Linked DNA regions of Homo sapiens: regions 1, 2, 3, 4, 6 and 7 are each linked to region 5. The links come from fine-mapping of genetic effects on gene expression. A gene starts in region 5. Each other region holds a variant in brackets. All regions are shown on one strand. Distances are between the middles of the regions. Region 1 overlaps OSBPL5 (oxysterol binding protein like 5). Region 2 has its middle 30 kb from the start of MRGPRE. Region 3 overlaps OSBPL5 (oxysterol binding protein like 5). Region 4 overlaps OSBPL5 (oxysterol binding protein like 5). Region 5 holds the start of OSBPL5 (oxysterol binding protein like 5). Region 6 overlaps OSBPL5 (oxysterol binding protein like 5). Region 7 has its middle 32 kb from the start of ZNF195.

The links. PIP is the estimated chance that this variant, and not a neighbour inherited with it, causes the effect.
Region 1: its variant is fine-mapped to the expression of OSBPL5 in whole blood (TOPMed, PIP above 0.99).
Region 2: its variant is fine-mapped to the expression of OSBPL5 in whole blood (INTERVAL, PIP above 0.99).
Region 3: its variant is fine-mapped to the expression of OSBPL5 in tibial nerve (GTEx, PIP 0.98).
Region 4: its variant is fine-mapped to the expression of OSBPL5 in monocytes (TOPMed, PIP above 0.99).
Region 6: its variant is fine-mapped to the expression of OSBPL5 in whole blood (INTERVAL, PIP 0.99).
Region 7: its variant is fine-mapped to the expression of OSBPL5 in left ventricle (GTEx, PIP 0.96).

What each region holds. Positions count from the first base shown.
Region 1 is chr11:3,136,832-3,140,896 of GRCh38, reverse strand. All of the region lies in intron 1 of OSBPL5 (oxysterol binding protein like 5), which reads left to right. Among named protein-coding and RNA genes, the nearest start is that of OSBPL5, 26 kb to the left of the region's middle. RefSeq lists an enhancer at 3,966-4,065. The variant G/TG (reference allele first, on the strand shown) is at 1,600.
Region 2 is chr11:3,260,459-3,264,523 of GRCh38, reverse strand. No RefSeq gene overlaps it. Among named protein-coding and RNA genes, the nearest start is that of MRGPRE, 30 kb to the right of the region's middle. The variant C/T (reference allele first, on the strand shown) is at 1,768.
Region 3 is chr11:3,085,760-3,089,824 of GRCh38, reverse strand. It overlaps OSBPL5 (oxysterol binding protein like 5), which reads left to right. Exons shown (of 22, transcript NM_020896.4): 22 at 1,482-2,718. The coding sequence ends at 1,620. Among named protein-coding and RNA genes, the nearest start is that of CARS1, 30 kb to the right of the region's middle. The variant C/AGCCAGGGAGCC (reference allele first, on the strand shown) is at 2,025.
Region 4 is chr11:3,111,733-3,115,797 of GRCh38, reverse strand. The region is part of intron 7 of OSBPL5 (oxysterol binding protein like 5); the gene reads left to right. Among named protein-coding and RNA genes, the nearest start is that of OSBPL5, 52 kb to the left of the region's middle. The variant C/T (reference allele first, on the strand shown) is at 2,489.
Region 5 is chr11:3,163,800-3,167,864 of GRCh38, reverse strand. OSBPL5 (oxysterol binding protein like 5) reads left to right here and starts at 2,555. Exons shown (of 22, transcript NM_020896.4): 1 at 2,555-2,649. RefSeq lists enhancers at 1,361-2,073, 3,817-4,065.
Region 6 is chr11:3,128,309-3,132,373 of GRCh38, reverse strand. It overlaps OSBPL5 (oxysterol binding protein like 5), which reads left to right. Exons shown (of 22, transcript NM_020896.4): 2 at 3,205-3,361. The coding sequence starts at 3,226. Among named protein-coding and RNA genes, the nearest start is that of OSBPL5, 35 kb to the left of the region's middle. The variant C/T (reference allele first, on the strand shown) is at 1,983.
Region 7 is chr11:3,345,440-3,349,504 of GRCh38, reverse strand. It overlaps the pseudogene VN1R56P. Among named protein-coding and RNA genes, the nearest start is that of ZNF195, 32 kb to the left of the region's middle. The variant A/C (reference allele first, on the strand shown) is at 2,384.

The DNA.
Region 1 (4,065 bases), 27 kb after region 5:
ACACCCATGGGCTGACCAGAGCACCAGCTGCAGCTCTGCATGGGCGGGTAGGGGTGGGGTAGGCACCTCACCTTGATACACCCAGGGGCAGCCTCAGCTCCTGGACATGAGGGGCCGCCCCAGGTACCCACATACCCCAAGGAGGACTAGGATGGGACGTGTGGGCAGCAGGTGACCTTATGACCTCTCTGGTCTTGGAAACAAGGCTCCTACAGCCAGTCCTGGGTAATGTGAGCTGGGGGACAGAGGGGAGCCGGGACGACGATGCCTGTCCACTGGTGGGGCAGCATGTACTTGGGTGGACAGAGGGCACTGCCTGGGGTCCTGGCTTCCCTCGGTGCCCCTCTCTGCTGGGGGAGGCCCTGCGTGCTCACGGAGTGTTGAAAGTGGGCTACCAGGTCAAGGCCTTGTGTTCCCCCTCAGACTGGGACCCCTGAGTGTCCACACAGGCCTCTCAGGAGGACACGCTGTGCTGGCTTTTCCTGGGCTGCCTTGGCCCTGGGAAGGGTGTCCTAGCTTGGCTGTGAGCCCTACCCTGCCTGTCCAGCACCTGAGGGATACAGGGGAGAGCTTGGCTGTGTGTGTCACTCCTGGGTGGCACCATGCTGGCCCTTCACAGAGAGCATTGCTGTGGGCTGCCCCTTCCAGAGCTGAACTCAGCAGCCTGGCCAGGGAGACACCACTGCAATTATCCCCTCCCTCCTTCTGAGGACTCAACCTCTGTTAATACAGCCCGAGATGGTGGCTGCAATTTGGGGGACCTTGGCCGGGTTCTCCTCTGCAGAGGGAGCTCCTTGGCAGAGGTGCTGCTTGGCGGACCACTGCACACCCCCCTCCCAGGCTGCACAGCCGAGCAGTGGGCCCAGAGCTTGCGATGAATGATCTTGTGAGGCTGGCTTCTCAGAGCAGGGGGGGCACCTCTGCAGGCCTGCCAGGAGCTGCAGGGAAGAGCTCCTGTTGGTGTCCTTGGCCAACCACAGGCCAGGCTGTGAGCGCCCCACCCCACCACCAGCTTCAGCCTCTGCGAGTAAACGCACCCTAGGAGCTTGTGCTCCTTCAGGGCGCGTGGCTGGGCCTCGGGGACTCCAGCAGGGAAGGCTGGCTGCCTGAAGGAAGAGAGGCCGGGGGAAGCAGCACTTGGACCCAGGGTCCAGGAGCCCAGAGAGGGAAGCCGAGAGACAGAGAGAGAGGAGGGGAGGCTGGATGTGCCCTCTGGAAGTGACTCCTCCCCATAGAGCAAGGCAGCAAGGCCTCCCTGGGGCGGGGGCTTGTCCAGAGGCCAGGGGAAGGCCTGCCACCCCCATCCTGCCCCCAAACTCCTGCGGGCAGGGCTGGGTGCCTGGGCTGGTGATTAAAGCCCCCTGCTCACTGGCTTTCCCCAGCTCACTGGAGGCCACTCCTCCCTGCCTTTCCCAGAATGGGCTCAACTCCATCACTGGGGTCTGTCTCCACCTCTGCCCCAGCCTGGTGGCTCTTCCTTCCCCCATCATCCTGGCAGGTTGCTCGTGGCCCCACAGAGCACTGGCAACAGCACAGCCAGCACCTTCAGAGCTGATGCCCCTGGCAGACCCCAGCAGGCTTGGCCACGGCCCCAGCCCC[G/TG]GGGCCACCCGTCCCGCACAGCCTCCTGGTCTCCGCTCACTCAGCTGGCCGGTGGCCACCTGCTCCTCCAGGGCTGGAAGCTTCCACCTCCCTGGCTCTCAGGCCCACTGCCTCATGGTCACCCCAGGGTCCCCTGAACGGGAACAGCTGTGGTGGTGTGTGGGTGGGCAGTGGGGGAGACTGAGGCTGGAGGGTTTTGGGGGAGAGTGTGGGCCTGCTCGCACCCCAGGATCCCCACTCGGTGTCAGCGAAGACCCATCACCCGGTCCCTGCCCTTGGAGCTCAGGTGCCCCTGGAGGGCGGAGACGGACCTCAGTCTTGGCCCACAGCAGCCGCGTCCTCTTTGTTTTGCTCTGGTCTTCTTGTTGGAGTTTTTGCCCACACGCCTGGCTCCAGGCTGCCCTGGAATTAGGAGGATGAGCAGGCTGGGGCCAGATGAGGAGACACAGCCACGTGCTCAGCTTCTCAGCCGCGTGTCCCTAGGCGGCCACAGCCCAGCTGCTTCTCCCTTGGTCCCCCACCTGGGTAGGCAGCGGCCTGCAGGGCCGTCCACTGGGGGTGGCACACCAAGCCCAGGAGCCTCACCAGGAGGGCCAGGCAAGGGGGCACTGGCACCACCCAGAAGAGGCCCCAGGTGTGCCTGAGGGCATTCAGGACAGAGGCCAGCCCCACAGCACGGCAGGCGAGCGTCTTTTCTGGAAGTGAGTGTCCAGGCTCCACTGGGGGCCCAGGTTCATGTCTTATTTCCAGTGTGAATGCTGAGGCTCAGCGTGGCGGGTTTGAGATTGCGTCCACAATCCCAGCAGGCCCCTGCCTCCAGCTGCACTGCCTCCAAGTGACGGCCCCCACTCCCTTACCCCTCCCTCCCCGGCTGACCCCTGCTGCCACCTGGCTGCAGCTAGCATCTGAAAATCGGAGTCTCCTTTCAGTTGGGACAGGTGGGGTGGGTCTAGCTGGGAGGTGGTGGGTCTAGCTGGGAGGTGGTGGGGCCAGGCCTGCCTCAGGGACCACGCCCAGCCCGCCCCCATGCCAGGGCTTCTTAGGGCTGGTGGAGTGATCGACTACAGGGGTGTGGGGTCGGGGTACCAAGGCCAGCTGACCCAGTAGCTGCTCTGAGCCTTCAGTGGGCCTGGTGTCCATCAGGAGGACAGGTGGACAGGGCCGGGGACGGGCTGGCCTGGCCGGGCCCACAGGCACAGGACTTGGCTGAGGCAGCCCGGAGAACACGCAGGCATGGCTCGATGCTGCGTCCTCAGCAGTGCAGGCCACTTCCTGTGCCCCTCTTGAGGTTCAACCACTCCACAGCTGCCTCTGATAAATGTCTCCCCAGAGGGAGGCCTGGCCTCCCCCTCAGCTCCACAGCTATCTCCAAAGTGCAAAGGGGATTTGGGGCTTCAGCTGTGCTCCTTTGAGGGGATCCCAGGCGCAGCCTGGCCCACGAGACCTTAGATGGGCCGTTTCCCCTCTTGGGGTCCCAGTGTGTTTGTGTGTGATGAGGGTGTCACTTTGTCACCCAGGCTGAGTGCAGTGGCATGACCATGGCTCATAGCAGCCTCGACCTCCCAGGCTCAAGCAATCCTCCCACCTCAGCCTCCTGAGTAACTGGGACCACAGGCATGTGCCACCACAACCGGCTGTTTTTATGTTTGTAGAGACAGGGTCTCGCTATGTTGCCCAGGCTGATCTCGATCTCCTAGGCTCAAGCGATCCACCCGCCTCAGGCTCCCAAAGTGTTGGGATTACAGGCTTGTAATCCCAGGTGCAGTACACCCGGCCCACTGCATCTTTAAAATGTGATGATGACCCCTGCTCCCCTGCTCCCCGCACCTTGCGAGCATTCCGAGAATCATATCAGATGGGACAGAACATCCAGGAGGACCTGGGGGCTTTAAGGTCCATCAGTGCAGCAGATGTCCTGGGAAAGCGCATGTCCCAAGCCCCCCAGGGCCCAGCTGCCACAGCTGAAGTGCATGCCACGGCTCTCTGAAGAGGCTGCTGCTCCTGCAGGGGTGGTCAGGCTGCCCACATTAGCACTAGGCATTCGGTCCACCCAGACACAGCAGCCTGGTCTCTTATGCTGCTGTCTGCTCTCAGGGAGTGCATCTGTTGCTGTGGTGGTCTCCCTGGGGTGACTCAGGAGGCCTGCGTGGTTTCCTCACAGCAGGATCTTCATGGTCACTTGCATTGACCTTAGCAAGTTTCTGGAATGCAAACGTATGGTGTTGACATGATGGCTGCTGTCCTTTAACTGATGGCTGCTGTCCTTCCTTGGGACCCACTGACCTCTCCATCCCATGTGCGAAGAGCCAAGCATTTGGGCTTATGTTCCTTTATCCTTGTGATTTTAGAGCATTTCCCCTCCACAGTCTTGAACGAGAATCTATCTGGTTTAGGCAGAAGCATCTGTGCCGGATGTTACTGCTGAAGGCTGGCTGCGGAGTTCCTGCTTTTCTGGCCCCTGCCAAT
Region 2 (4,065 bases), 97 kb before region 5:
CTATAAAGACACATACACACATATGTTTATTGTAGCACTATTCACAATAGCAAAGACTTGGGACCAACCAAAATACCCATCAATGATAGACTGGATAAAGAAAATGTGGCACATCTACACCATGGAATACTATGCAGCCATAAAAAAGGATGAGTTCATGTCCTTTGCAGGGACATGGATGAAGCTGGAAACCATCACTCTCAGCAAACTAACACAGGAACAGAAGACTAAACACATGTTCTCACTCATAAGTGGGAGTCGAACAATGAGAACACATGGACACAGGGAGGGAAACATCACATGCTGGGCCCTGTCAGGGGGTGGGGGGCTAGGGGAGGGATAGCATTAGGAGAAATACCTAATGTAGATGATGGGTTGATGGGTGCAGCAAACTACCATGGCGCATGTATACCCATGTAACAAACTTGCACATTCTCCACATGTAGCCCAGAACTTAAAGTATAATAATAATAATTTTAAAAAGAGGAAATTAGGGCAGAGACAGGCACAGAGGGCCCCCTGATAGTGTCCTCTACCTTGAATCGCCTCTTCAGATGCAGTCATGTTCTGAGGGCCTGAGGGTCGAGGCTGCAATGGCAGAATTTGGAGGGGACCGTCAGCCCCTCTCACAGCCCTCCTCCTTTTCTGACTTTTACAATAGCTTTCTGTGCTTATCTGCTTGTACACTTTGGGGTTTGGGGTGAAATCATGTTTGGGAAAAGCTTTGCTTCATCACAAAGGTCTGGAAACCCTGAGATGGACTGAGGCTCTGCCTCTCCATCAGCTTGGGCTTGGAGCTTCCCTTTGCAGACCCCATGTGGACAGGAGCTGGTGGCTCCAGGACCCAGTGGCTCCAGGACCCAGTCTACAGCCACGGTCTATGGAGGCGGCTCTTCAGTGGGGCTGAGGCCCCCAGGGTGTGTCCCTCCGTGAAGTGTCCAGGCATCAGCAACCCCCTGCCCTCCCAGCCAGCCAGAGCAAAAAGCTTCTTGGTTTCCCCTTAAGCCAGAGAAGAAGGCTGTTTCCACTCAGCAGTACTGTGGCTCTTCATGGCTCTTCCAAAACCATGTCCTGTCTCCTGAAGCCCAAGTCAGGAAGAGCAGGGGTTTAAGAAGGCCTGACTCACTCTGCAACCAAGCTTGTCCTGCAGTTTGCTGGGTGCTGGAGGCCTACGTGGGCTCTGCTTCTGGGATGTCCTCCCAAGCCACAGTGGGAACAGGACCTGGCTGTGGGAGCTGGGATCCATGGAGGACACGTCCTGCCTGTCTAGAAGCTGAATCTCATGTTGTGATGTCCTATTCTGGCCCACAGAAAAACAGGCTGACTCAAATAAGGATATTGAAACAGTCTCCCAAATCTTCCCACTTCAATAGCTTAAGTTGGGCTGGTTGGGGCTGAATTGGCCAGTGGTTTAGGCAGAGCACATAACAGAACTTTCATGACTGTTATCTCATTTTACTGAGTGACCATAAGAAAGGGGAGATGAAACATGTACGAATCTCTTGTAACGTTTGTAATTTACCCCTCTCCTGAAGGACACGGCTCCTTTTCTCAGAAACGTATTATATTATCCTACAGAGCAGAGGAAGACATTTTCTCAGCAACAAAGAGAACTGGGGCAGGAGTGAATCTGAAGAAGACGGGAAAAGCAGTATCAGGATTCAGTTCTTAAGACTTCAGGAATAACTGCAGAGTTAAACTGAACACGACTACCCGGGGCTGTTTGATGCACTTTGCCTTGGACTCTGGGGCAACTTCCCTCCTGCT[C/T]CCTCTGTCTTCACATGACTAATGGAGAAGGGAAGGAGGTGGAGAGGCTGCAGGGCACAGTGGGGAAAAAGCTTCCTGCTATCACGAAGCACAGACGATAACAACAGCTAACTCCACGGGACAGCCACCTTGGCATTTTCAGACATGGTAGCGTTCTCCCCCAGGGCCCTGTGGCAGATGGGTGGCTAATTCCTCAGGACATACACACTGAAGAAACACAGAATCTGCCTCAAAGCCCGGACTCCCAGCTCTTCAGGAGTAAGATCTCTACCCTCCTCGCTGTGCAGTTTCCACAAAACCATCGGCAGTGAGGAGACTTCAAAATCACCCTTGTAGAAAGAAATTAATTAATTTAAGATAAATTAAAATAAAAAAACAAAATCACCCTCATGTCAATTCCAGCACTATAGCAGGAAGCTCTCAGAGTCTTATTGAGAAATTTCTTTCTAACTTGTAAGAAACATCCTTATCCATCCAAACCCAAAGAATGGACTCAGGGACACAGAGAACAGAAGAAGCGAGACTTTAATGGCAGTCTTGCAAGATTGGGTGTCTGGCATGAGGCACACCCAGAAGGGCTTCAACAAGAAATTTACTCCCTAGTGCACAAGTCCCTCCCCCAGTTCCTCATTGGCTGAGTACTACGAGGTTACAATCTTCCTGGACGTCGAATATTGGTAGTTGGATTAAGTTTTCGAGTATGTTCATTAGGGTCTTTCTGCTGCATTTTATTGCATCCCATAATGCATTGTGACTGTCTCAGGACTCTTCGAACATTTGACGTATGGCCCTAGATGGCTGTGCTTTGCTGATAAGAAAGGATAAAATTATCTATGTTGCAAGCTAGCCTAAACTAAATTCTTCGGTGGGGTGGGGAGGGGGTATTTAAGGGGGCCCTGACCGATAGGCACCTGGCTGCCAAGTGAAAGGAGAAAGCAGGATGGGGGCAGGGGTGGCTCAGTACATTCTGCTTCTTTATCTCTTTATTTCCACATAGCCTGCTTAAACCTATACTAAGACACTTAAAATTAAAAATGGACCACCACATATAGGTTATTTTTTACATAACTGACACCCGGTTTTGAGTATCTTATATTATAATCTGTTTTGCTTGCATTCTAGTAAGTCATTTCCCCAGTAACACGATTGCAGACTCCTTAAAGGGAGAGACATGCCTTATACACAAAACCTGACACAGACAAGGAATTGGTCAATCATTCCAATAGTATTTCTTAATAGCATCATTTTCTTATTTAGTTTGTCTCACAGTTTCTTCTTCATACTTTGTGAAAGAGTGGCTAATCAAATTTCTCTCATAGACTTTATTTATTTATTTATTTATTTATTTATTTTTGAGATGGAGTTTCACTCTTATCACCCAGGCTGGAGTGCAATCGTGCGATCTTGGCTCACGGCAACCTGTATCTCCAGGGCTCAAGCAATTCTCCTGCCTTAGCCTCCCAAGTAGCTGGGATGAGAGGTGCCTGCCACCACGCCCAGCTAAGTTTTGTATTTTTAGTAGAGACGGGATTTCGGCATGTTGGCCCAGCTAGTCTTGAACTCCTGACCTCAGGGGATCCACCTGCCTTGGCCTCCCATAGAGCTGGGATTATAGGCGTGAACCTCTGTGCCCGGCCTCTCTCACAGACTTTAAAAACACATTTGTGTGAAGAATAACATTAGGAGACCATTGTGTAAGCAGGCCTGTGAACTAGGTATCTGCTGTTTAGGAACACTGAAGAAGGCAGTCTAGGGAGAAATGGGTGCCCGTGCATCAGAAGGGAAAAGGGGGCTGGAGAGAAGTTTAGAGGTGGAGACAAAATGGCTTTGTGGCACAAAGGGCAAGGAAAAAAGCGAATTAGGGATGACTCCTGGGTTTATGGTTGAGCTGGTGGTGCATAAGGGATTGGATTTTGTCATGATGAGGTCACTTCTTCCAAGAGCGTCACTGAGTTCAGTTTCTGGGGAATGGAAGGCCAGAGTGGAAATGTCATGATAAAACAAATTGCAAGCCAATTACCCTCCTCTCCCACAGCCAAGCGAATATCTACATTTAACAGGCTTTTTAAAACTTCATCTATGTAGATTCTGAGTAACTGGGAAAAGGAATCTCTTCTGAGGTCCTGATTGTTCTTACAACCTTAACCTGTAATCGCATCTACGCAGCCCACTTTCACTAGCTTATAAAGCAGTTGAATATTCCAGTTGCTTTGAGTCAAAACCCAAAGCAAGATTAGACTTCATCGATACTTCAGGCACGATGGCAACAGGTATTCATCATATTTAAGCTTCCCTTTC
Region 3 (4,065 bases), 78 kb after region 5:
CATCCAGACTCCGGGTCAGAGAGTGCGAGAGACCTGGTAGAGCTAGGGCGGGAGGTGGGGAGGCCAGGAGGCCGCGGCTGGGGTTGTCATCGGAGCTGGAACCCACAAGACCTGCAGGGTGATGAAAGGAAGACAACCGCCGAGGGCAGGAGAGAGGGTGTGGGAGCGGCAGGTGGTGCGGGATGATCAACCAGCCAAGTTGGCCATGCCTGGCAGATACTGAGCTGGAGATGTCCTGAAGCCTAGAGGAAGGTGCCAGCCCAGCATGGCCTGGGGTAGCCCCAGGAGAGACCTTGAGGTGTGCAGAGCGAGGTGGCAGCCTGGGCTCACTGTGGTGGCCCCATACCTGCGCACAGTGGCTTCTCAGGAATGGCTGGGGAAGGAGCAAATGGGAGTGGCCGAGAGCTGGCAGGTGCAGGCCACCAGGGCCACATGGCCCCTTCCTGTCAGCAGATCCCACCAATGAGGAGCAGAGCACAGGGTCCCTCTCGGGTCCAAAGCTCCTGACTCTGAGCCAGGCTGAGGGTCTCACTGGCTGTGGGACCTTGGCTGTCACACCTCAGCCTCCCCTCTGTAAAGTGGGCTTGATAGCAGTACCCCAGGGTGAAATGCAGCCAGGGCACAGGCCCGGGCTCTGTGAGGCTCAAGAGCCTTGGGGAACTGTCATTGTCCCTGTGTAAGCATTTCCAGAAGGTGCTCCCTGGTGAGGCTGTGTGGGCAGAGAAGCAGGGAGGCCTGGCTCCCCAGAAGCAGGTCAGCTGTCAGGCAGGTGGCCAGGACTCAGCCAGAAGCTTCTGCAGCAAACTGGATACCGCCTCAGAGGCCAGGTCCTCCACGGCAAAGTACTCCAGCTCAGGGCCAGGGCCTCCACAGCAGAGTACTGCCGGCAAGGGGCTCGGACAGCGCGTCTACTCCCTCGCGGTCCCGGAGGCTGGAGTCCAAGATCTCGGTGCCACAGGGCTGGTTTATCCCGAGACCTCTCTCCTGCCTGGCAGACGCCAGCTTCTCGCTGTGTCTGTGTCTTCATCTCTTCTTCATATAAGGACACCAGTCCCATGGGACCAGGGCCCACCCTAATGGTCTCCATTTAAATAAATACCTCTTTAAGGACCCCATCTCCAAATACAGTCTTATCTAAGGTGCAAGGGGTTAGGACTCCAACATATGAAGGTGGCAGAGGCATGACTCAGCCATAACCACAGGGGTGGGAGGGAGGATGTAAAAGGCTGACTCCCCAATCCCTGACCCTCCTCTGCCCTGAATGTGCCCAGGGAATCCCAGTATAGCCATGGTGCTGTGGGGCCCTCCCACTAACAAGCTTTCCACCCCCACCCGCTCTGTTGCCCCTGGAGGGCCATCCCATCTCCACCTCGGCCCTGTGTCCAGCACCTGGTCAAGTACCCAGGGCACTGTCCTGGCTTGTGGGAGGGGGACTTGCTGGCATTGGCACAGCCCCCACGATCTGTCGCCTGTCCTTGCAGGCACCTCTCGGCCATGCTGAGCTCCACGGCACGGGCAGCACAGGCACCGACCCCAGGCCTCCTGCAGAGCCCCCGATCCTGGTTCCTGCTCTGCGTGTTCCTGGCGTGTCAGCTGTTCATTAACCACATCCTCAAATAGGAGCCCTGAGGGCAGAGCTCCTGGCCGGTCCTGAGCCCTCCCTCCCAGGCACCCAGCACTTTAAGCCTGCTCCATGGAGGCAGAGAGGCCCGGCAAGCACAGCCACTGTGACGGGGAGTCCAGGCGCAGGAGGGACCCGGGGCCACAAGGCGCTGCGGGCCCAGGTGTGCTGGGCCCCTCTCAGGGGCACTGGCCTCTCTGCAGGGCCTTCCGCCCAGCGCTGGCCTTAATGCTAAAGCCAAATGCAGCTTCTGCTGTGCGACGCACTCCTGGCCATCTTGCCGTGTCACCCCCTGTCCGGCCTCCACTTGCCATGGGGGATGGATGGATTTAGGGTGGGAGGGCCTGTGGGGGCCCTGGACAGTCACACCCCAGCAGCAGTGAGTGGGCAGGTTTGGAGGAGC[C/AGCCAGGGAGCC]CCGAGTGGCCCAGGAGTCCCCCCACACACAGATGCATAGGCCTGCCTTCCGGAGACCCTGTCCACATTGCCGGGACCACCCTGGTGGGGCCACTGGTGGGTGCCAGGGACAGGTTAGGGCCACTCTGGGGAAGGCATTTTGGTTTTTTATTCCACGCTGTGCTGTTTGGATGGGAGCCCCACAGAGGCAGGTCCTGGAACCACCCCACCCCCACACCTGGACGCTCGCTCTGGTGGGGGCACACGCAGGTGGAGGTGGTTGTGGGTGCAGGTGTGTGCAGGGGTGTGGGGGGCGCAGGGGTGTGGCTTAGCTGGCCCCGCACCCAGGCCGGGGAGGCTCAAGTTCGCCACTTTACTCAGACCGATGCACAGTCTTCCCATTTTACACTTTTTTAATAAACATAATTGCAATATTTTAGGTGGGCTGCGAGCTGCAGTCAGCCTTCACGTCTGGCCTCAGTCCCCGTGTCAGTGCCGCTCTGCGTGTGCGTGTGCGCGTGTGTGAGCCTCTACACATATATATACGTACAGAGCCTTAAACCACATCGTGGCGGTGCCGTCTGAGCTGTAGCGGGTGGCTTTGTTTCCAGTTTTTGTACCCGTGTCCTTGTCTCCCCTCCTCCCCCATCTGGGGATGTGTCTGTGTTCCACACCTTGAAATAAACAGACACATACGTGTTCTCTTCTTGCGGGACTTCTGGAAACGAGAGGAGGGCTTCCCAGGAAGACTCAAGGCCAGCATGGAGCTGTGTGGGGCTGGGTGGAGGGGCCCGGGAGGGAGGAGGGTGCAGAGTTCACAGGGAGCTGTGGGCAGCCTGCCCGCCCTGTGGAGCAAATGCTGGGAGGCTGGCGTCCCATCACCCAATGAGCCAGTGGGGGACACAGAGTGACACTGCCCACAGGCACTCCAGGCACCTCAGAGGCTGCTGGGGGGCATTGGCACAGCCCCTGAGGCCAATGCTGCCAGTTACTGAAGGGGACCCCCCCTGGCTGGACCACCTGGCCCGCTGCCCCTTGCTTCGGTTCCACTGTGGCCACCACCCCTGGTACTCAGACACCAAGGCCAGTGAGTGGGCCTGCTCAGGGTGCCCCTGAAGGCGGGGTGGGGGCACCTGACCACAGGCCTCAAGTGACAGCAGAGGGAGACTGCAGCCCACCCCTCACAGCAACCAGAGGACAAGGGTGATGAAAGGGAGGGCAGCCAGGCAGCACCCAGGAGAGGGGGACACGAGGGGCCTCGGGTCACCACCTCCCTTCTGCACCTCCCCACCTCGACCCCCAAGGCCCCAGGAGAGGAGGGGCTGTGGCTGGGGTGGAGGGAGAGGCAGGGGGTCCTGCCCCCCAGCTCCTCTGAGGAGCCTCATGTCCGCCTCAGACAGCCAGGACTCCCAAGACCCCCCCGAACCACCTGGAGGATGGGGCGGGGGGCCCTGCCTGGCTCCAGTGCCCCTCTGTGGAGGCCACACACCATGGGGCAAACATGAGCTCAGAGTGTGAGCCCTGGGGGTGACAGCCTTCTGCATCTTGATGGCGGGGCAGGCTGTTCCAGACACCCCGCCTGGGACCCCTATCTTGCCTCCTGCACCCCAGGCCCACGCGGAGCAAACGTGCTCAGCCAGGTGCCCTGCCCAGAGACAGCCTACCCAGGGGTCTGCCTCCCACCAGCTCCAGCTCACCACAGGGCAGGCCCTCCACCTGCACCCCAGCACCTTCACACACACAGGGGCAAGAATGGAATCCCCTCCAGAATTCTCCCTCTATCTTACTAAGAACTGTTTATTTTTTAACTTATTTTTGAGACAAGGTCTCACTCTGCCACCCGGGCTGGAGTGCTGTAGTCTGATCGAAGCTCACTGCAGCCTCGACCTCCCAGGCTCAAGCAATCCTCCTGCCTCAGCCTCCAGAATAGCTGGGACTACAGACACACACCACCATGTCTAGCTCATTTTTTTTTAGAGACAGGAGTCTGACTATGTTGCCCAGGGTCATAAACTCCTGGCCTCAAGCGGTCCTCCTGCCTTGGCCTCCCAAAGTGCTGGGA
Region 4 (4,065 bases), 52 kb after region 5:
TAAATTGTTTTCCAAAATTCCAATCTATAAAATTTTCATCTTGATCATAAGATATAACTTCCATAAGCCTTTATAACCTTTATTAAGGAGTCAGTTATTGTTTCAAGAAAACCTTGTTAATCTGACACAGGGGCCCATATGCTAGTCTTGCATCAGTGTGCCTTTGACATTAATGATTAATTTATAGAGGAACTGAACTTACTTTATCTCTCAAAGTCAGCCCTTACAATCTCACATGTCTATCTCTTCTGGGATAGTCTCTGGGCCTTGAGGAGTTGAACAGCTTTAATTTCTGTGTCTCAGGAATGTGGTTTATTTTGATTGGCATCTTCTACCGGGCCTGAAGATGAAGCTTTAATTGCTGTCAGTGTTTAAAATTTAGCAGGACTTGGTGTTCTTTTTAGACCCATGAGTCAAATCCCTGTAACTCAATGTCGCAAGGACTTTAAAAGCACATACAAGAAGATATAAGGACGGAATAACCTTGATTTAAAAAAAATTTTAATATCTGTTTTTCCTAAGCAAACCAAACTTAATAATAATGGCATAGGAATTATTTTGATAAAACATAAAATCTGTTAGGCCACTTACCAAAAGGCAAAAGCAAATACCTTCTGCAGTGTATAGAATATTATGTTAGAAGAAAACATTTTCTTTAAGAAAACATTGTTAGCATCAGGCCACACACACACAAAAAAACAGAACCTGAGGAGGAAAACAAAACTTATATGAGCTGAAAATGAGTTGAAGGGAAGTGTTACTATTTTGTTCCTTTTAAGAGGGAAGAGAAAACTGAAACTGGCAAGATGCAATGAAAGTTGAACTTTGGGTTAAAATTAAAAAATTAAAATATCTTATAATTGATTAAGAGTAAATCAACCTCTTAAGAAAATGTCGGCCAGGTGCGGTGGCTCATGCCTGTAATCCCAGCACTTTTGGGAGGCCGAGGCAGGAGGATCACGAAGTCAGGAGATCAAGACCATCCTGGCTAACATGGTGAAACCCCATCTCTACTAAAAATACAAAAAAAAATTAGCCAGGCGTGGTGGCGGGCGCCTGTAGTCCCAGCTACTCAGGAGGCTGGGGCAGGAGAATGGCGTGAACCCAGGAGGTGGAGCTTGCAGTGAGCCAAGATCACGCCACTGCACTCCAGCCTGGGCAACAGAGCGAGACTCTGTCTAAAAAAAAAAAAAAAAAAAAAAAAAATCATTGTTCTAACCAATTCTTTAGTCTATAACTGTTTTTTTACATCAAACCCAATCTCTAGAAAGACCATTATAATTTCCCTTTAGTCATAGACAACTTGATCATATAAAAGGGTTTTTTTTTAATAGATCCTCTTATTGTGACTTCCATAGACCATTCATGCCACGCTTGGACTTTCTGGTTTGTCCTGAACATCCCTCTTTCTTAAACAACCAGTCATTTTACTCTAGGACTAAATTTACCATACAAGATTCTTTCTCATATGAAATTATTTCTCTTTAAGCTTTCTTACTCTCCACCAAAAAACACTTTTTTATAACTTTCTTTACATCTCTTTTACTCTTTTATTTCCTGGTTCCTTTTACCTTGTTTTATACATGATCTTTAAATAAGCTTTGAATTAGGCAAAAATTGTTCACCTTTTTCAAAAGGACATGCTTTCTTTTAGAAAGCATATTTTCCTACAAATATATTTTTATTGGAAAATATCCAAATAGTGAAATATCTTATTTAATCTAACTTTAAATTCTAAATTATGATGAATTTGTCTACAAGTATTTGTCCTATTACATTTACCTAATTATTTTAATCATTTACCTAGATTATTTATAAAAACTGCAATTGTCATTATTTAAATTATGGAAACACCATTGCAAAATTATAACTGAGACAGTGAAAGAGATTTGACCTAACTGACTCCATCTTGTTTCTAACCTTCAAGCTATCCTTGTTCATTCCTGGGCATAGGTCAAACTAACTTTGGGAGGAACTTAGTTTATAGTTTACCTGAAACAAAGACTATAACAGTCTTTCTCAAAATGAACCTTACTGCCTGTGGACTAGACTACCTAAAGCCACCAGATTAGAAGTTATGGTAATCTTACTAAATTTAAGATGTAGCTATTTTTATTAAACCAATATAAATTTTTTTTTTTTTGAGACGGAGTCTTGCTCTAGTCTCCCAGGCTGGAGTGCAGTGGTGCGATCTTGGCTCACTGTTACCTCTGCCTCCCAGGTCAAGCAATTCTCCTGCCTCAGCCTCACGAGTAGCTGGGATTACAGGTGCCTGCCAACACACCTGGCTAATTTTTGTATTTTTAGTAGAGATGGGGTTTCACTATGTTGGCCAGACTGGTCTTGAACTCCTGACTTTGTGATCCACCCACCTCAGCCTCCCAAAGTGCTGAGATTACAGGCATTATTAAAGATTACACAAGCAAAGATCATTCTGTCTTGGGCTGGGTTTATAGTTTCGTAACTCCTATGCCAAATTTTGACACCT[C/T]ATGGTATTTGGCAGGGATAAGTATGAAATTGCTTGATTAATAAATGCAAACAAAAATATATGCTGGCAATTCTTAAGACATTTCTAATATTACTTTACCAATAATTTTAAAGCTAGCTTATTTATTAAAGATTTTATTTAAGTTACATAAACTTGAAAAAGCATTTGACTTGTCTTTTCTTTTTTCCTGATCAAGTATTTGATTCAAGTGCATTTACTTTCTTAAGCCAATCAATTAGAGCCCTTTTATATATTTTCAGTAGTGAAACATTGTGTACACGACACATAAATACATAGACATATTAGGCATGGCAATAGAAGTACATCTCATAGGTTTATAAAAATTTTTTTTTCCTGTCTTAGACTTTCAGATTCTTGATAACCTGTTTCACAACCCTAGGCAATTGTCAGCTAAATAGCCTTAAATTTGCATATTAAGGGAAACAACTCAGGTGAAAATCAAATAGCAAAATTTGCATAAGGTACAGAGAGAAAAAGTCTGGTGGTGCTAGAGGGAGACTAAAGATGGATGCCAAATCAAACAAAATTATAGAAATCTATCATAGGATTGCATAAGGAGACCAATTTTATGTAGTAGGGACTACCTATCATTTAACTGGATCTCTGAGCTCTGGGAAGAGCCCACACTGAATCCTAGGTCTCCAGAAAGGGAGAATTATCATGAGGTTAGACCACGTGATGCTTTTATAGTGCACTTACAAATTTTTTTTAAACAAAGACATTTCTAAGTGTCTAAACCACACTCTTCCTTAAAAGCCCAAGAGTAACCACTGTTGCAATAACTACTTTAGTCAAAAAAAAAAAAAAAAAGAAAAGAAAACACAAAACAGGTTACACAATACAAAAGTAAGCAGTTTAAGAGCTGAGACAAACTTGTCTGTTTACATTCTTGGGGTTTCATAAGAAAAAACAAGTTTCTCCCCCAAGGGGAGTCTGGCACCCTCTCCATTTTCTTTAAGGAACCCCAGGCTACTATAAACTATTTTAGGTCCCCCATGCGGCAGAAGGTGCAAGAGAAAGGAGAGACAGCAGAAGTAAATCAAGAAACAGAATTCAGTCAACTGAGAAGAAAAAACCCTTTTGCTCAAAAAAAGACAAGGTCCTAGGAGAAAAACAAAAACAGAAACATGAAGGTCTCTTAAATACAAACACACACATATGCGCACACACACACATGCACACACACATATGCACACACACATGCACACACACATGCACACACACATACACATGCACACACATGCGCGCACACATACACACACATGCACACACATGCGCGCACACACACACACATGCACACACATGCGCGCACACATATGCACACACACACACACAGCTTGGATGTTAGCTTTTCATTAAACTGACTTTTAACCATTGAGCTTCTTTGAAAAAATCTTTTTAAATCTCATTCCATATTTCAACTAGGACAAATTTCAACGAGGACACAGAAGTACAGTCATTACTCTTTCAGTTTGGCCTAGCTAGTGAAAATGTGGCCTTGTTATATGAATAAAGCCCCTTAGTAGTCAAAATCAAAATCTTTCCTCTTTTTTTTT
Region 5 (4,065 bases):
TCTCCAGGCAGTGGCAAATGCCACCTGGAAACTGGAGGCAAAACCGCCCCTAGCAGAGAACTGCCATTCTGGAGACTTGGATTGGAACTGCCCTGATTTTAAATTGCACTGTCCTTGCAAAGCATTTTTTAAGTTCTTACTTATCACAGACATATTTTTCTGAATTACCATAAATTCCAAACTAACCAGCTGGGCGCTGCAAGCCGTTCCTTCCCATAGTCCACTCATGGTCCCCAGTGCCCACCAACAGCCAGCGCTTGCAAAGTCTGTTGGCCCACTGGGGACTTATGGCAGCTCATGCAGCGGAAACTGCTCTGGTCATCGCCATTTATAGATGAGGAAACTGAGGCACGGCCAGTTGCACAAACCTGCTCAAGGGCTCCTGGATGGTGGGGCCTACTGGGCGTGCCCCCCTAAAGCTGGTGCCATTGGCACCTGGCTCTGCCCATCTCTGAGACCTCTGACGCCTTCATTTCCTGCGTTGGCCACCAGGCACAGATGCTGTGTCCATCTGACAGGAGAGGAAGCGGGGTCCCAGGAGGAACAAGCCACTGCCTGGTGACAGAGCTTCTTTCTGGCAGCAGCAGGATTCGGACCTACCTCTTGCTGGGGGCAACCTCTTCGGCTCACTGCCTCTCCAAAACCAGGCAAGAGGCTGGAAATGGGGCTTTCTGGAAAAATGCAGAGCCTGCTGGGAAGTGGGGCAGACAACTGACACCTGTCACTGAGCCTGGCAGGTGGCGTGTTCTTCATTTCTTGCATGGCCATCTGGCTGTCAGACACTACCCAGTGAGAGGCTCAACCCTCGTCCTGCTCCACCCCAGCCCCACCCTGCTGTCATCTATGGCCCCTTCCCCCACCCTCAGGTGCCTCTTTGACTTTTGACCTCTGCCCTCAGCAGTGTCATTTCATGAAACCCAGGCCCTGGACAGCCAGCATCAAGCAACTGGCAACCTTCCCTACTGCCGCCCCTGAGACCTCCGCCCTAGGGATAGGGGCTTTGTTTTCTTCCCTAATTCCCTTTGGATTGGCTCCAGCAACCAGCAAGTTACCAGGCAGCAGCACCTCAGCTTTGGGCGGAGTCTTCAAAGAGCAGACCCAGCAGTTGTATGTGGATCCCAGCTGCACAGACCCTCTCCTGCAGAGGCAGAGGCCGCCTGCCACAGGCCACGCGGAGCAGGGTCCCACCATGGCCCTGAGCATCTTGACTGAGCAGTTCTGCATCCCAAGGCCTCACAAGGTGACTATGGAATGGCAATGCTAGCCCTGGGGGTAAGCTTAGGGCAAGTCCGATCAGCCCACTCGCCTCCGTAAGCCGTGGGTTCCTGTGATCCGCACACAAGCGGCTGGTGCTGCTATCCCCAGGAGGATACCCACCAACTTGTCTAACGGGGTGGGCAAGGCCAGGGCTGAGACGGGAAGGGGTCTGGCTTGTTGTGGGCAGAGCACCTGCATGCTGTGCCGTTCCCCCTTCAGGTGCTGGAAGGAGCCTTCCTGGGCCGCTCGCCCTCCGCAGCCCTGCTGGGAGGTCTTGCAGACGCCCATGATAGCCAGGCTTGCGGCCTCCCGAATGCAACTGCAGCGTGAAACCGTAGAAACACACGTGTCAGTGGCAGTTCTGCCTGGGGAGGAGCCCAGGGCTCTCTGCGGAGGGTCAGTTCTGTCCCTGTTAAGGTTCTGTGTGGAAAAGACTCCACGCCCTCTTGGGGTCTACCTACATCTGGGGATGCCCGAGCCCAGCTCCCAGTTTTTCTGGTCATTTGGGGACATACCATAGGAAGGACCTGCAGTGCACCTCAGGCTTGGACACTAGGGATGCAAACGCCCTGGGGCCAGCCCTGGGCCCACACCCAATTTAGGGTCTACAGGCAGGGAGCCAGGGGCCAGGGGAGGACTTCTCAGCTCCCAAGGGGATGCTGTTTAGGGGAATTAGAATGTCTTTTATATACAAGAGAACTGAGGGGTCTAAAAAGGTCTCTGGGGGGTAGAAGAAGGTGAGGAGAAAACACAGGAAGAAATGCACATGAGGGGAGGTTCTTGTCAAAAGGGTCCTGAGAAAGACGTACAGTTAGAGTGTGACTGAGGGTCCTTCTTAGCACATAAGGGGCAGGGACAACGGGCTCAGATGTCTGGGGCTCCTCTTGTGTTCTGATGGCTCCTGAGACGGGGAGAAACGGCGACAGTTTCCTGGGTTCAGGAAGGGAGAGGAGGCGCCTCGCACCCTGGCTAGGGTGGGCTGGGGGCCTGCACCCCTAAGTTGGAGAACCCCACGAAGCTGACCCCACTCACCGCTGCCCACCCCGCCAAGCCTCCTGGCCATTTTCAGCGGAGTGTCCCGACCTCTGGCCGCCCGGGTGGGTGTGAGCCCCGGAGCGCGCGCGGGGGGTTGGGGGATGAGGAGAAGCGGCAGCCGGTGGGGGGCAGCCCCTGGGCGCCCGCTCCGCGCGGCGATTCGGCCCGGGTTTTGCGGCCGCCGCGCCTCCTCCTCCCGCCTCCGGGCTCCCTGGGCCTCCTCCCTCCGCCGCGCCCTCGCTCCGCCTCGCGCGGGGGGACCATCTGCTGGCATTTCCTGCAGCCAGGCCCGCGCCGCCAGTGGAGCCCCCGCGCGCCCGGCCGGCCCGGAGCACCGAGCTCGCGGCACGGTAGGAGGTAGGAGCGCGGCGGCCCGGGGGGCGGCAGGGCGGCGGGGGGATGGCGGGCTGGGAAGGATCCGGAGGGCCCCGCCGGGCAGGGCCGGAGCGAACCGAGGGCCGCGGGGGGCCGGCCGAAGGGATCCAGGAGCTCGCGCCGCAGCCCCGCGGACCCTGGCAGTAGCCAGTGCGGGGAACCACGCCGCGGGGCCGGTCGCGCGCTGGGGAGCTGGGGAGCGCGGGAGCCTGGGGGCGCCCCGGGCCAGGACGGGTCGGCGCCTGGCGGGTTGGGGCGGGTGGGGCCCGCGAGTGGGAAGCGGCGCGCCCAGCTCGGCTCCCCACTTGGTGGGGCTTAAAGGAGCCGGGACCGCCAGGGAAGGTGGCTGGGTCTGACCACCACAAACCCTGGCCAATCAGGGGGTCTGTCCCCCCAGCTCGGCCGACGCGGGCTCCAAGGAGCCAGGTCTTGATGGGTCTGCAGGGGGTCTGGGATCTGAGTCTGGCGTCCCAGCTGCGGGCTTGGGAGGACTGCTGTGTCTGAGTCCGCAGAGTCAGGGGGCTGCCTGGATTACAGGCTAGGGAAGGACCTTGCCCACAGCCCCCATCTCTGGGGCACTGACCCCCTGAAGATGTGGAGCCTTAGGGATTGTTGAGGTGCCTGAGTCCTCAAGAGGGTCTTGTGCACTTGAAGATTCCTCCCGGGGAGCGGGGTGCAGGAGGGTGGGGCAGGCAGGAAGGAGGCTGGAGTCTGCAGCCCCCCGGGCAACAGGCCCGTCCTGGGCTTCCCAGGCACCGCCCCCAACCCCCACCCAGACCGCTGGGCTGCCTCCTGTCAGAAGCCAACTGGAGTTAGGGTTTGGGGTGACTCCTGGGGGTATGGAGGGGTCACAGGGTGGGCTTACCTGCCCCTCCCTCGTCCCTGGGCTGAGCCCAGCCCCTCCCTCATCCTTGGGCTGAGCGGGTCTGCCCCGCCGAAGCGGCTGGGTGGATTTCCTCTCTTGCCGTTTCGCAACTTGCTCCCCTCTGTGTGTCTGCCCCAGTCTCTTCAAGGTGCCTTTTACAGGAAGACTTCTGTAAGGGTCCCACCCCACCTGATACAGCCTCCCAAAGCCTGGAGAAGTGGGCCAGCCTTTGGGATCCTAGATAGATGCTCTTGGGTCTGCCTGCACCAGGGCTGATCCAGATCCCAGACTGAACAGAAACTCTGCTCCCCAACCCCAGGAGTAAGGCCCCTCTGCACGTTTTTATCCCACCTCCTTGGTACACAGGGCCTTGCTGTTCCTTGAACCTGCCAGGTGAGTGGGGGCTTTGCAGGCATCGGGCAGGTTTGTGGCAACCTGGGGTGGCATCATGTGCCCAGCTGCTCCCTTCTGGTCTCAGGCTCCAGAACTGCAGATCCTATTGTCTGCCTGCACGCGTGTGGGGCTGGCCTGGG
Region 6 (4,065 bases), 35 kb after region 5:
CAGAAGGGCTCCACAGACCAGGATGCCTTGTGATGAGAGCTGCCGCCCACCCTGTCTGAGCGGGTCAGAGGTGGTCTGCAGGGCCCGGGGCACTGGACACTGGTCTGGGGTTGTTGGCACACAGAGTGATAGTCCCTGGTACACACCTGTATTGCATTTGGATTGGTGAGTGTCTGTTCCATATCAGTGTTTCAGACATTATTTGAATACCACCTCAGATGTGTCTGAGTGTGAGGTGAATGGGAAGGAAGGTGGAATCAGGCAGGTCAGCTGACTGGCTGGAGAGCTTCAAGGAGGGATAGAGGGGTGGCAGGTGGGTGAATGGATGGATGGATGGATGGATGGATGGATGGATGGATGGATGCCTGAAAGGGAGGGAGGGTGGGTGGATGGGTGGGTGGATGGATGGATGGATGGATGGATGGATGGATGGATGGATGGATGGACAGGAGGATGGATGGATGCCTGAAAGGGAGGGAGGGTGGGTGGATGGGTGGATGGATGGATGGATGGATGGTTTGGTGGGTGGATGGATAGATGAGTGGGTAGATGGATGGATGGATGGATGAATGAATGGGTAGGTGGATGGATGGATGGATGGATGGGAAGATGGTGGATGGATGGATGGATGCCTGGGAGGATGGATGGATGGATGGATGGATGGATGGATGGATAGATGAATGGGTGGGTGGGTGGATGGATGGATGGGAGGACAGTAGATGGATGGATGAATAGACGGGTGGATGAATAGACAGATGGATGAATGGGTGGATGGATGGATGAATGGGTGGATGGATGGATGGATGGATGAATGAATGGGTGGGTGGATGGATGGATGGATGGATGAATGGGTGGATGGATGGATAGATGGGAGGATGGTAGATGGATGGATGGATGGACGAATGGGTGGATGGATGAATGGGTAGATGGATGGATGGATGGATTGATGGATAGATGGGATGACAGTAGATGGATGGATGGATGGATGGATGAATGGGTGGGTGGGTGGATGGATGGATGGATGGATGCCTGGAAGGGAGATGTATGTATGTATAGATGGAGGGATACAAGGGAGCGGGAGACTGGTGTATAGATGAGACTGGTGTATAGATGAGTGGATGGTGGCACTCACAGACTAAGAAGTCCCACTGGCTGTCATTGGTGCTGGGAGAAGGTATGTGGGGTATCTGAGCAGAAAGGTACCAAGATCCCCTATGGCCTTTCTACCTTGGCCCAGGTGGAACTGGAGCAGACAGCCAGACAGGGCAGCTGAGGCTAGGTTTTGAGCCCCTCTCCCTGCCCCAGGAGGTTCCAAGTGAGGGAGACCTACCTGGGAATCGCTGTCACCACACTGCCTGGGACATTCCGGGGCTCTCTGTGGGTCCTGAGAGCAGGATCGCTGCTCACTTACCTTGGCTGCCTGGTGCCCAGCCCAGCCTGGGTGCTCAGAAAATCTCAGCTGTCTGAGTAAGCCCGGCCTCCGCTCAGCTGCTGGTTCCCATCCTGAGCTGCACCTGGGCAAGTAGGACGTGTTTGTTGTGATTGACAAGTAGGGGCAGGACTTCCCATCTGCCTGCTTCCCTGCGGCAGGTTGGCTGAGCCAAGCTGAGACACTGAGTGGGCAGACACTCAGCGGCTGGGTTTTAGGATCGGTTCCACCTGGCTTAAGGACGGCATTGCTGATTGTTAGCTCTGTGACCTGGGCCAAAACGCCAGCCTCTCTGAAGCCAGCTGCCCTGTGTGTAAGATGGCCAAGGTCATGAGCCGAGCCAGGGGCCAGGTGAGGGAGGGGCTGGCCCAGCCTGGCTGCATCCTTGGAGCCCCTCCCCACTCTGACTTCAGGACTGGGGGCACAGAGGGGGCTCTGGGGTGGTGGACAGAAGCCCCCAGGACCACAGACACCCTGGGCCCCCAGCCCACTCCTGAAGCCACAGCAGGAAAGTCTCTGTGTGTCTGAGGCCCCCCCCAGCAAAGCCCAGGAC[C/T]ATGGGAGAAATCGAGGCCTTTGTCCCGGGCTTGGCAGGATGCCACTGGCCTGCCCTGAGGCAGCAGGAAGCAGCCCCAGAAAATTGGGAAAGGAGGAAAATTGACCAGTAGTTTTTAAGGAGCTCGCCCTTGGGAAGTGGACACAAGATGAGAAGCTGGAGGGGATGCTCTGCCAACCCTTGTCAGGTCACGATTACAGGTCGAGGCCTTCCACTCCCTGAGCCATGATTTTCTCATCTGTAAAATGGGCTGAGACCTCAGTGGATCTGGCGCCGTCAACTTCAAGTGCCTGCAAAGGCGTGACTGCAATCAGTTACCCTCTGCTTGGCCCAGCACTACTAGGTGTAGGGCTGGTGGGGAGCAGGACAGAGGGGACCGCCTGTTGTCCTCTCTCCTTCCAGGGGAGGAAACAAGAAACTCGCTTCTGAACCCACAGGGGAAAGGCAGGTCTGCCAGTGGGCGGGGCTGGGAGAGCGAGGCAGGTGGGTGTCAGGGCCTGGCTGTGGGGCCTCCCTCTTTTGTGAAGCAGCAAGGAAGCTCCCACTGGGAATGCAACGTCTTGGGCTGGGCGTGGACGCAGGTGTGCCTGGCTGTGAGCGCCCAGAGCTCCCTCTCTTGCTGGGGTGCATGTGGGTGCAACTGAAACTGTTGGGGCACCCAAGCTTCAGGCGGGCTTAACCAGAGGCGAGGCGCTCCTGGGACCCTTAGATGGATGGCAGGCCAGGCTCCCGGACTGCCCAACACCGTGCCAGCCACTCCCTGGTGCTCAGCGGCCACCTGGTCTCACCCCCGTGCATCTTCTCCATGGAAGCTCTAGACCCCTCCCCACCACAAAGTGCTGTCACGTGGGAGGGAAATGCGGGAGGGAAAACCTGTGTCTACACGTGGGTCTGCCTGGCTGCAGCCAGGGTCTCACAGAACCTGGGGTGGGGGTTCTGAGAAGGACATCTTCCGAGGGTGGTGATGAGCCTCTCTGACCAGGGCTCCGTCCAGCCCTACTGCCCGGCGTGGAAAGGGCTGGCACCAGCCAAAGCCATTCGCCTGAGCTGGGCTGTCCTGGCTGACCACCCACCACCAGGCTCCCAGGGCCCAGGCCCTCCTCACCCTGCCTCAGAAGTCCCCTGAGAGGGGGACTTCTTAGCCAGGGGCACCCCCACCATGTGGCTCTGAAGCCCCTTCCGGGGCGGTGACCTCCTGCTGCCCCTCCTTCCTTCCTTCCAGAAGCCCCCGAGCGCCCACAGCATGAAGGAGGAGGCCTTCCTCCGGCGCCGCTTCTCCCTGTGTCCACCTTCCTCCACCCCTCAGAAAGTCGACCCCCGGAAGCTCACCCGGAACTTGCTCCTCAGCGGAGACAATGAGCTCTACCCACTCAGCCCAGGTAAGTGCCGGCCGTGGGCAGGGCAACCTGGCCCTCAGCTTGGGCCCGGTGGGGTGACCCCGGGCGGCCCAACCCCTCTGTGCCCCTTGAGGTCCACAGCTTCCATGCTGGGGACTGTGTGGGTTTCATGATCAAACGGTTTGTAGCTTGGTAGAGTGCCAGGTAATACGGCTTCTTGGCTTGACCTGCGGGGCCAGGTGAAGCCCATCTGGTTGAGGAGGGGGTTCCCACAGCCCAGGCTTTGGGAGTTATGGAGTGCAGTCATCCCAAAGTCAGCCCAGGCTTTGGGAGTTATGGAGTGCAGGCTCCAGGGACAGGTGGCCTGAGCCCCAGTCCTGGCAGGGTAACCCCAGGCCAGCTACTTGACCTCTCTAGGCCTCAGTTGACTGATCTATAAAATGGGACAATATTAGTACCTACTCCCAGCTATACATGGGTCCTGGGCTCTGAGAGGGGACAGCTGGAACCAGGCCTGCCTTCGTGCAATTGTAGATAAAGCACCCAGCACACAGACTCAGAACCTCTGCCCGCCAATGCTGCCACTCTCCAGGCCCCTCCCTGGCACCTAACTATGCACAACCCCTGCCCCAGCCAAGGCTGAGCTGTGACTGCTGTCCCCCAGAAAACCCAGCCCTTCCTCCCCTGTTCCCCTGAGAGTAGGAGGTAGGGGCAGGCACCTGCCTGGGGGACCTCTCCCCAGCTCT
Region 7 (4,065 bases), 180 kb before region 5:
CAGTCTTAGCTACCTAGCTGTATCTAACTCATTGGTCATTGTTTCTAGATAAATCTCTGGAGTCCTGGCAGCTTCTGAATTTAAATATTTGCCTGTGAGTTGGAATGTAAACCTGTTTTCTGTGTTCATAGCGTAGCTAGTGGTGGGACTGTTAATGCCACCTGCGTCTTTAGTATTTTCCATTCCATCAACATGAGTACCAGAAACTCTAGGAGTCCTTGGGTTAAAGGCGCCTGCCCTTTCCTGTGCTCTGTGCTGGGTCCTGCAAGTGCTGTAAAAATACAGAGTTTCTATGCTTATGGCTGACAAAGGGTAGAACAAACACTTCACGAGGCCGGGTGCGGTGGCTCATGCCTGTAATCCCAGCACTTTGGGAGGCCGAGGAGGGTGGATCATTTGAGACTGGGAGTTTGAGACCAGCCTGGCCAACATGGCAAAATCCCCATCTCTACTAAAAATACAAATATTAGCCAGGTGTGGTGGTGCGTGCTTATACGCCCAGTTACTCAGGAGGCTGAGCCACGAGAATCACTTGAACCTGGGAGGCAGAGGTTGCAGTGAGATGAGATTGTGCCACTGCATTCCAGCCTGGGCAACAAAAAACAAAACAAACAAGAGAACAAACCCAAACCTTCACAAAAACTATATATTTTTGATACTGTTTAGCTCAGCTTATGACTAAGAAAGAGACTTCATTATTTGGAACATTGCTAGCCTTCTATAATGTTTATTTATTCTTTTAATTGACATAAAAGTGTATATATCATGTAAAATATGATGTTTTGAGGTATATACGTGTCAAGTGCTTTATTCTAGTTAATTATCATATGCTTTACCCCATATAATTTTTTATGTGGTAAGAACTAAACATTTGACTGTCTTCTCATTTTTAAAAACACAATACATCCTTGTTAAGTATAGTCAACATGCTGTACAATAAATCTCTCAAATTTAGTCATCCTATCTCACTGTAATCATGTCTTAATTTGACAATCAACTCCCCAAACCCTCTGCCCTCCTAAAAACCCCTGCCTCTGGTAACCATAATTCTACTCTCTACTTTAACAGGTGAACTTGTTTAGATGTCACATATGAGAACATATGGTATATTTCCTTCTACACCTGGTTTCTGTAAATTAACATAATGTGTTTCAGGTTCATCCGTGTGATTGGAAATGAAGGGATTTGTCACAGAATTCATGATTTCGGTACATTTGGGGTGATTTTTATATCATGACTATAGTAAATAGTGCTGCAGTAAACATGGGCATGGAAATGTCTCTTCAACACACTGATGTCCTTAAAAATATATATATAAACAGTAGTGTGATTGCTGTAACAAATGGTGGCTCCATTTTTAATTTTTTTGAAATCTTCATTCTGTTTTCCAGAATGGCTGTACCAATATACATTCCCATCAACAATGTGCAAGCCTTCTCTTTCTTCACACCTTTATCAACCCTTGGTTTGTTTTTGTTTTTGTTTTTGTTTTTTTGTCTTTTTATTAATAGTCATTCTGAAAGGAGTGAGTTGGTGTCTCACAGTGGTTTTGATTTGCTTTTCCTGGATAATTATTTATGTTTAGCATTTTCAAATTTATCTATTTGTTATACGTATGTCTTCTGAGAAATGTCTAAGTTTTTTCCTCATTTTTAGTACTTACTTGTTTTCGTTGTACAGCTGAGTCTCTTACATATTTTGGATATTAACCCCTTGTCAGATTTATAATTTTAAAATATTTTTCCATTCCTAGGTTATCATTCCATTGATTGTACGTGGTGCTGTGCAGAAGCTTTTTAGTTTGAAGTAATCTCATTTGTCTACATTTACTTCTATTTCCTGGCATTTGGAGGTTAAATTCAAAAAATAATTGCCCAAACCAATATCGTATTTTCTTTTCCCTTATGTTCTCTTGTAGTAGTTTCAGACTTTCAGATACTACATTCAAGTCTTTATTTCAAGTTGCTTTTTATATGTGGTGTGAGATGTGGGTCTCACTTCTTTGTTCTGTATGTGGATGTCCATTTTTTTCCCCAGCACCATGTATTAAAGAGTTTGTCCTTTAACCATTGTACGTTCTTGTCACCTCAGTTAGCTGTAAATGCATGGATTTATTTCTGGGATCTCTATTCTGCTCTATTGGCCTATGTGTCTTTTTATGCCAGTACCATACAGTTTTGCTTATTGTGGCTTTGTAGTATATTTCAAAGGCAGATTCTGTGATGCCTTCAGCTTTGCCCTTTTTTTATACTCAATTATTTTGACTATTGATGGTTTTCTTTTGTGGGACAAGATGAATTGGGGTATTCCTTTTGTATGTGGAGAATGTCACTGGTAGTTTGATAGGGATTGCATTACACCTGTAGATCATTTTATGTAAGAT[A/C]GACATTTTCACAATATTAATTCTACCAATTTGTGAATAAAGAATATCTTTCTTTTTATTTGTGTTTTACTTAATTTAATTTCTTTTATTTCAAGCAGAGTCTTCCTTTGTGAGGCTGACGTAATCCTCCCACCTCAGCCTTCTGAGTAGCTGGGACCAGAGCTGCATGCCACCATGCCTGGCTAACTTTTAAAATTTTGTAGAGATGAGGTCTCTGTTTTGCCCAGCCCAGGTCGGGGAGCGGAGGGATGTTGGAAGAAAACGGGCACCTCCAGGAATGTCCACTGTGAGGCACCACCCACCAGGGCCGGGGATTGGTGGAGAGGGAGGATAAAGCCCCAGGGTTGCTGACGCAGCTCCCAGACAGGAGCTGGTTTGGTGGAAACCAGAGCCCTGGTCTCCCTCCAACTGCTCCGGAGCCTCCCGCTACTCTACCCCATGCGTCCTGCTGCTCTGCTGATCGACTGTCCCACTGACCTGTAGCTGAACCTCCCACCAGGGCTTGAGGACTTAGTTTGAACTGGTTCCTTTCCCAGACCCCTTTCTCCTCCACCTCCTCCTCCTCCAGGTGCCCAACAGCCCCCCTTCAGTCCCCTCCCCTCCTCTCCTCTCCCTTCCCTTCCCCAACTGCGATCCCATCCCCATCCCCATCCCTATCCCCTTCCCTCCCCCAGCCCTAAGCCACCCCCACCTGTGCCCTGGCCACCTCAGGGCGCCCTGAGAGGACCAGGACATGCGGCTGCGGTGGCTGCTCTTTTGGTTCCTCGTGCTGGGGTTTCCCAGCCATCAGTCCAGCCACGTGAGTACACTATGGACCCGCGGGGTTCCTTCCTTTTCGTTGGGCTGTCACGGGGCATGAAATAACACAGCTCACGCCCATAATCCCAGCACTTTCGGGGCCCAAGGTGGGCAGATCGCTTGAGTCCAGGAATCTGAGACCAGCCTGGGCATCATAGCAAAACCCCATCTCTACAAAAAATTCAAACAATTAGACGTGGCAGCGAGCGCCTGTAGTCCCAGCTACTTGAGAGGCTGAGGTGGGACGATCGCTTGGCCCCAGGAGGTGAGGGTTGCAGTGAGCCAGGATCGCCCCACTGCACTACAGCCTTGTCAACAGAGTGAGACCTTGTCTCATACAAAACGAAGTGAAATGTCATTTGAGTTCTGTGTCATCTGGTTTGATGACTTTCTAGGAACTTCTGAGTCATCTGTGTCTTCTGCTCTTGGGAGCTGCCTCCAGGGAGTCCGTGTCCAATCAGAGTGATGGGGCCCCAGAAGCCCATCGGATGGGAGAGAAAAGAACTGCACCCTGCTGGGATGTTTGCAATGCGGAGTCACCAGGAGTGACATGACCAGGATGTGAATGAGGACTCTATTGTCCTTTGTTCTGTAAAACGTGTCTTGTGCAGATGGTTGATTTACCCAAAGCAGAAAGGGTCTTAAAGTCCTTATAATTGTCCAAATGGAAAGAAATCACAGGTTTCTACTTTGAAAGGTTTCACCCTCACATTATAAAACCTCTCCACTATGCTCAGGAGAGGGCATCTTATAGAGATGAGGGTATTTGTTCTGAGTGGCATGCACCAGATTCTCAGAGAGGGAGCTGGAGAAGCCCAGTGATGGGGAGCAACCACTGCGTCAAGGCAGACTCACCCCACATGAGTGCCTCCAACTCCAATCAA